2 linked regions of the Homo sapiens genome follow. The protein of the gene in region 1 purifies or fractionates together with the protein of each later gene. This does not show direct contact. Each region holds a gene or a part of one and is shown in the gene's direction. Other genes may lie near its edges.

Region 1 (3,949 bases):
TGCTGCTTTTGAAAAGCATGTGCCAGAGGGTCTTGCGAACTAAGTATTCCTGTTGTCTGTGTGCCAGCTGGCCTGGCATTTGGTCTAGGAGTCTTTCAGATACACAGTCAGTCCAGACTGAGGCTGAATTTATTTTTCCTAGTGAAACCTGAGTCCCCACACTCCCCATCTACTAGGGCTGCAGCTATTATAGCAAGGGCCTGAGCTCTCCATCTGCTCCCCAGACACCTGCTGGAACTAATTATCATTATTATTAAAACTTTAAAAAAATTTTTTTCTATTATGTTGCCTTTTTTCCTTTCCTTTTTCTTTTTTCACTTTTTTTTTTTTTGGAACTGATTATTTTGGAAACAGCAAAGAACAACATACTTCACAATCTAATCCAAAAACATAAGCCCCTTTGGTCTTCCATGCTGCTCTTTTCCATTTTGTTTGTACACTTGTTTTCCCTTCATCAGCTCTCCTATTTCTCCTCACCTATCCTAAACATGTGTACTTTGCTCTTCAGAACATTGGTTTGTGGTTAGCCAGTTATCCACTATTATATTAGCTTCCATATACTCTGTTAGCTTGCATGTCTTCATGTAATATTTCTTCTGTCCCCTAATCTTAACTTGATTCAGCTGCATCTTTCAGTCGTTGCTGCCTTTTTTTTGGACATACCTCAGGTACTTTGCGGGTAGGAGGTTGGGCAGTCTGGTCAGTGTTCTCTTTCATTTTCGTTGGTACCTCCAGACCACTCTTCTTCCATTCTTTCATTTAACACCAAACACCAAACAAAAACAGCCTAACAAAATGATTCTGTTTCTTTGAGGCTTATGCCTTTTAACTTTCTAATCTTTTTTGCTATAAATTTTTTCTCATTCTTTGAAGACTTTGGTTCTTGGATTTGATCTTCATTTTCACCCCAAGTCTTCTTATTATCCATTTGGTAGCATAGCTTCCCAGACTGTAATGTCTTCAACATCAGTCCATCTGGACTTTATATGTGGTGTGAAATAGAACTCCATTCTTGATTTGCTGATGGGAAATCAGTGATGATAACCTAACCATTTGAAGAATGACAGGTTGTTAAGTGTATGAATTCCCCCATATGTTGATTGAGTTTAAGAAGATAAGAGATAATTGAAAATCTTATGGCTGTGTTTAAAAATATTTTAATTTTATAGTCATAAATGAGAAGAAAAGTTATACCTGATATTGTGGTACCTGGCTATATCATGATATTGATTCAAAGAGAGGGATTAGCTGTTTTGCTAACAGGTATGGTAGAAAGAGCACTGGATAATTTAAAGTCTGGCAAATGGCAAATCACTTAATGTTTTTCACTGCTTTTTTCTATTTTGAAGTGGAGAGAATACCTAATCCATATAGTTATTGAGCTAGTAAAGTACATTTATATATGTGTATATGTGTATTTTGTAAACTTTGAAAGGCTTCAATGTTTAAGATCTCATAAAAATTAGAGAACCATTCTCTGTTAGGATGGATTCATAAGGTTACTCCTGAATATCACATTATCTCCATAAAAAACTTAGAATTCCCTATACTCTGTGTTTTCTATAGGAAATGAAAAAAGTTAAAAAAATTATTATTTGTGGACTAGGCGTGGTGGCTCATCGCTGTAATCGCAGCACTTTGGGAGGCTGAGGTGGGCAGATCACTTGAGGCCAGGAGTTCGCGACCAACATAGTGAAACCCCATCTCTACTAAAAAAAAGAAAGAAAAAACAAACAAATTAGCTGGGCATGGTGGCACACACCTGTAATTCCAGCTACTCTGGAGGCTGAGGCACAAGAATTGCTTGAACCTGGGAGGCGGAGGTTGCAGTGAGCCAAGGTTGTGCCACTGTACTCCATCCAGCCTGGGCAACAGAGGAAGACTCTGTCTCCAAAAAAAAAAAAAAAATTATTATTTGTGATACTTTAATCTACATGATAAAGAGACTCCAGTGAACATTAGTCTACAGATGTTTAAGGTCTATGGAAAACCAGTATGTTATTTCTCATGACCCTGTTCTTGATATTATACTGTAAATATTAGCTTTTTAATGTTTCATTTACAGGTACATGATGTTGATTGATGGCACAAATGAAGTTTTTATGATTGATAGAGACAATTCAGTATTTCATGTTTCAAATCTGGAATTTCCATTTCGTAAAGATCTTCGTATGCATTTATCAAATACTCTCTTGGATGGCGTAAGTCATATTTATGTATACTATAAAATTAAACATTGCCATTTTTCTTTTCCTTGTAAGTAAATGTGTATTTCTGTTGGTTAAGAAATTTCGAATGAAATCTAACTTTTTTTTTTTTTTTTTTGAGACGGAGTCTCGCTCTGTCGCCCAGGCTGGAGTGCAGTGGCGGGATCTCGGTTCACTGCAACCTTTGCCTCCTGGGTTCAAGTGATTCTCCTGCCTTAGCCTCCCCAGTAGCTGGGATTACAGGCATGTGCCACCACGCCCGGCTAATTTTTGGATTTTTAGTAGAGAAGGTGTTTCACATGTTGGTCAGGCTGGTCTTGAACTCCTGACCTCGTGATCCACCCGCCTCAGCCTCCCAGAGTGCTGGGATTACAGGCATGAGCCACTGCGCCCAGCCAAATCTAACTTTTATTAGGATGTTAAATTTCATTTATTTCTTATGTATACTTATATTGAATTAAGGTCCTCTTAAAGAGAGATCTGCCAACTGAATCTTTGAGCATAAGTAAGACTTTGAGATATTTTCTTTGGTGGAGAAATTTGTTAAAGATATGTAAAGGGTGTTAAATGAGTGCTCTGGTCAAATATGTATACATATGGATAGTTATATAATTTTGCATGAAGAGAAACATATGTTACATGTGGTTAGTAACTTGTCTTTTTCCCCACACTTAGCAATGTGTTTTGGACATCTTTTTCACATAAATGTCTGAATGGTTTACCATTGTGTATATAGAGACCATAAATTGGGGTTTCCAAACTATCTTGACTGTGAAAATTGTAGGGTTAAAAAATTGCTTGTTTAAAATATGACCCTTTCCAATAGCATATCCTAGACCATATGAATTGGAATCTCCCAGGGGCCTACATGTCCGTACAAGTGACCAAGTGATTGTAATTAGGCAAGTTTGAGAAATAGTTCTGTAATTTATTTAACCAGTTCCCTTTTGTTGGACATTTTGATTTTTGTATTTTTTCCTGTATCTAGTAAATTTTCATTCCTGTGACAGCATGAGTAACAAAATACCACTTTCTAATAAAAATGATATATATATACATATGTACATGTATATGTATCTATATGTGTATAGATTTAACTATCATAGTTAATGTGACTGGTACCCTTGGGGTTGTATAGTACATAAAAGTCATAGTCATTTGTGGCAGCTCTGGTAGTTGGTTCATGGGAACAGCAGGAACATTTTAGTTTTTGTTATCTTTATTTAAGGTACTTTTTTTAGCATTATAATTAATAAAATATAAGAAAGGAAAAGACTTAAGTAATAGCATTTGTCAAAGTTTAGTATAGTTTATAATTGAACTAATGTTTGTTGAGTGCCTATTATGAGTTGCTATACCAAGAGTACGGGTATTGCTTAGAGGGTTGAGGAGAAGGCCTCACCCTTGAAACATTTTGCTTAATTGAGCAGGGTGGAGAATGAATGGTAATGATGGAAGAGACCTTTGAATAAAACAATAACCCAAAGAGAGGTATTTAAGTCCTGAGGTAGTTTAGAGGAGAAATAAATCACATCTAGTTAGTTAGGAACTAAATATGTTTTGTGTAGGAGTTGGCATTAGAAACAGAAAGATTTCTATAGAAAGATTTTTGATGGACGTGGGCTGAGGGCATTCTAGGTAGGAAATAATGCTTAAAAATTAGATATTTAACCATCTACAGATTTAACTTAGCAATACTATTTATTTCACCTCAAACTTGGATAACTGAGAGCGGCATAATA
Region 2 (3,600 bases), on another chromosome or scaffold:
AATTTTTAAATTTAAATTGTTATTTTATTTTATTTTTTGAGACAGAGTCTCGCTTTGTTGCCCAGGCTGGAATGCAGTGGCACAATCTCAGCTTACTGCAACCTCCGCCTCCCGGGTTCAAGGATTCTCCTGCCTCAGCTTCCCGAGTAACTGGGACTACAGGCGCACACCACCATGACCGGCTAATTTTTTTGTATTTTTGGTGAAGACGGGGTTTCACTATGTTGGCCAGGCTGGTCTTGAACTCCTTGACCACGTGAGCCACCGCGCCCAGCTAAATTTAAAAACTGATACTTGATTCAGCTTTTGGAAAACTTTTAAGTATGATTGGAATAACAGAATATGTGAATCTACATTTTCAACTGTAAATTTAATAAACTCTACCAGCCCGGGCAACAGTGAAACCCGTCTCTACCGAAAAAAAAAAATAATAACAAATTTAATTAATTAACTGGCAGTGGTGCTGCGCACCTGTGGTCCCAGCTACTTGGGAGGCTGAGATGGGAGAATCGCTTCAGCCCAGGAGGTTGAAGCTGCAGTGAGCTGAGACTGAGCCACTGCACTTCAGGATGGGTGACAGAGAGACCCTGTCTCAAAAAAAATTTTTTTTCAATAAAATCTAAACGTAGATATTTCTGATGAAAATTTAGTATCCCAACAGAGACTTGCTGGAAGGACAAAATATATCACATTTTTAAGACATTGTACGTATATCTCATTAGTAATTTGATTATTGAAATAACTTTTGAAAATACCGCACTAAAACGTTAACACTAATTTCACCAGTTTCTTCGTACTTTTTGTGGCTACTGCAAAATTTAAAGTTATGTGTGTGGCTGCATTATATTCCGAGCGGACAAGCCCGACCTGGCAAGGCCTGGCAAATGGTAAAAGCCACCAAAATGGTGGCATATGAGCTGCATGATAGGAACGAGAATGATATTCCTTTGTGAAGATCAACAATACTTGACATCAAGTAGGTCTTCAAAACACAGGACTACCTAATGCTGAGAATTACTCCTCCCGATTACACAGTGTCGCATTTGTTTTTGTGAGCGCCTTAAGTTCCTTTTCCGACAAGAAAGGCTGGCAGACAGTTCTGATAGGGATGAAGGAATGGAGCACTTGGGGCTTGCCTAGGCTGTAAGGTGAAGTTTTAGAATTGTCACTTGGAACTCGGTCCCACGCCCAGAAATCGCAAACAGTCCCAAGTTTCCACACTGGCCACGCCAGTCCGCGACCCACGGCGGCTCCCAAGGCTGCGCCGACCTAGGCGCCCACACCCGCGACCTTCCCCGGAAGCGTTTCCATTTCATTCCCTCAAGTCCGCAAGGCGCCGGGTGGGTCCCGAGCGCCCGACTCAGCCATAAAGGCGGCCCCGGGAAAACGCTCTCGGAAGCGGGTAGGGGCCCAGGCCCACGCTGCCCGGCGTCCGCAGGCCAGGGGCAGGGGCAGAGGCAGGGACGGGGCAGGAACAAGGGAAGGTGGCGGCGGGCGGAGGCGAGGCCGAAGCGCCGGGGCCCGCGGGCAGAGGCCGCAAACGTATCCACGCCCCTCGTGCATCCTGGAGCGGGGCTGATGACGAACACAGGGCGCGACGGACGCACACACCGCCCAGCGCTCGCACGACGGTGCGTGCAAGGAGGCGGGAGGGAGCCTCGGGCTGTCACCGGCGCAATCTGCGTCCCGCCTCCTCCGCTCCCTGCGCTCCCGCCACCTCGGCAACTCCGCGCCCGCCTCCCGCCTCCGTCGGAAGCCTCCGCCGCAGTAAGGCTCCCGGTCTCGCTGCTGTCTCTTTAAATGGTGGGGCTACGAGCCGCCCCTGCAGCTGCTCCCTGGGTGGCCCCGCGCGCCGCTTTTGAGGGGCGAACCAAGATGGCGGCGGTTTTGGCTGTGTGAGGAAGACGGAAGAGACGGCGGCGGAGGGAAACCGACTTCCACTAGTCCGGGTCGCTTGGGCGGCCGGGGGCCCTCAGAGTCTCCCGGGCAGTGGTAGCAGTTGCAGCAGGATCAGGCGCCTGTCGGCTTCTGACGTTTAAAACAGGGGGAGCGGAAGGGAGCCACTGGCCGCGGTGGCAGGGCCAGGTATAAGGAAGGAAAATATGGCGGCGGCGGCGGCGGCCTGAGGAGGCGGCGGCGGCGCGGGAAGCTGCTTCGCGGAGATCATGGCGGAGGCGGGAGCAGGGCAGTGACGGGAGCCCCGAGTTCCTAGCGCTGCGGGGCGGGAGGCTACGAAGCGCTGCGCGGCCCCCTCGGGGCTGCCGGGCGCCGGGCTCGCCAGGCCTGGACAATAGCGCCGGGGAGCCGGAGGCGAGGAAAGGCGGCGGCCCAGAGCTCGGTCCCTGGAGCGGGCCATGCAGGCGGCGGCGCGGCCCCGCGGCGCCCAGCGGCGGCAGTGAGGCCGGGGAGCCCTCCGCTCGCGGGCGCCCTCACGCCTCGCCCCTCGCCTCTCCAGGGCCCCTTTCCTGGGCGTCTACTGGCGGGGCCCCCGCCCCGGTTCCCGGGCGGCACGATGACCGACACCCGGCGGCGGGTGAAGGTGTACACGCTCAACGAGGACCGGCAGTGGGACGACCGGGGCACCGGGCATGTGTCGTCTGGCTACGTGGAGCGGCTGAAGGGCATGTCCCTGCTTGTCAGGGCTGAGAGCGACGGTAAGTGAAGCCCCGCGCGGCGGGACCCTCGCAGCCCCCACGGCCCTGGGCCGCCTCCCTGGTTCTTGCGGGGCATGGCGCTCGCTCCACGAGAACAGAGGGACGGCTGGGGAGGGCGGCCACCTCGGGGGAGGACGGGCCCCAGGTACCCCAGTCTTGCGGGAGCTCCCCGGAGAGCGCTTGAAATGTTTCCTTTCTCTGAGTGCCTGGTGGCATTTTGGGTACGAGGAGAGCCAAGCGTGTTTGAGCTGTGCCGCCCTGGAGTGTGGAGAGGTCGAGGACCTGAGATAGGGAGTCCGGAGTGTGCTGTTCTTTTGCACTAGAGTGACCTTGAGAAAGACACTGATTAATCCGATCTGCTGCCTTAGTTCACCCATCTGTAAAGCAGGCATGAAACTTTGCTTGGAGCTAAGAAAGTTCTTGGACCTTTCACACTTTGAAGAACGTTTTGCTGTGCTTTTTTTGTTTTTCTTTTTAAACATCTTTTTGCTACATGTTTCTGATCGTGTTGAAGCTTGGCAACACTGTATCTGGCAACTCTACACTAAGAGAAAACGCTTTCCCTTGCGAAGATTTTCGTTCACCAGTGTTGGTTGTCTTTTTTATAGTAATGCAGAATTTTGTGTGTAGCTTACTATATAAACATCTTGCAAAGTTGGAATCATATGAGCTTTTTTTGATTGCTTAAATGGGTGTTCATAATTTGGTTAACAGGTGCAGAGAAGTTGGCAGATAATTTTTAAAACCTTTCGGATCTTCCCTAGTGTTTATGCTTCACAAATTTTGAAACAGCCCTCAAGGTTCAAAGACTAAGTTGTTTGAAAATAAGTGTTTCACGTTTTTTCTTTTTTCCACATGTGCTGTTTCATATTTTAAAAGGCTTATTCTCTGTAGGGATTGCCACTGTTTTTGGCGATATACAGTGAATTTCACTTAAAATACTCAA

The links. The genes of interacting proteins can lie anywhere in the genome.
Region 2: the proteins of RNGTT (region 1) and PPP4R3A purify together in Homo sapiens (affinity purification with mass spectrometry; 3 studies listed by BioGRID and IntAct, with this or other methods). This does not show direct contact.

The regions. Positions count from the first base shown.
Region 1 is NC_000006.12:88,851,881-88,855,829, reverse strand, and holds part of RNGTT (mRNA-capping enzyme), read left to right. Parts: intron 1-2,065; coding exon 2,066-2,201; intron 2,202-3,949.
Region 2 is NC_000014.9:91,508,560-91,512,159, reverse strand, and holds the start of PPP4R3A (serine/threonine-protein phosphatase 4 regulatory subunit 3A), read left to right. Parts: upstream 1-1,849; 5' UTR 1,850-2,512; coding exon 2,513-2,654; intron 2,655-3,600. UniProt on the Homo sapiens protein: Regulatory subunit of serine/threonine-protein phosphatase 4. May regulate the activity of PPP4C at centrosomal microtubule organizing centers.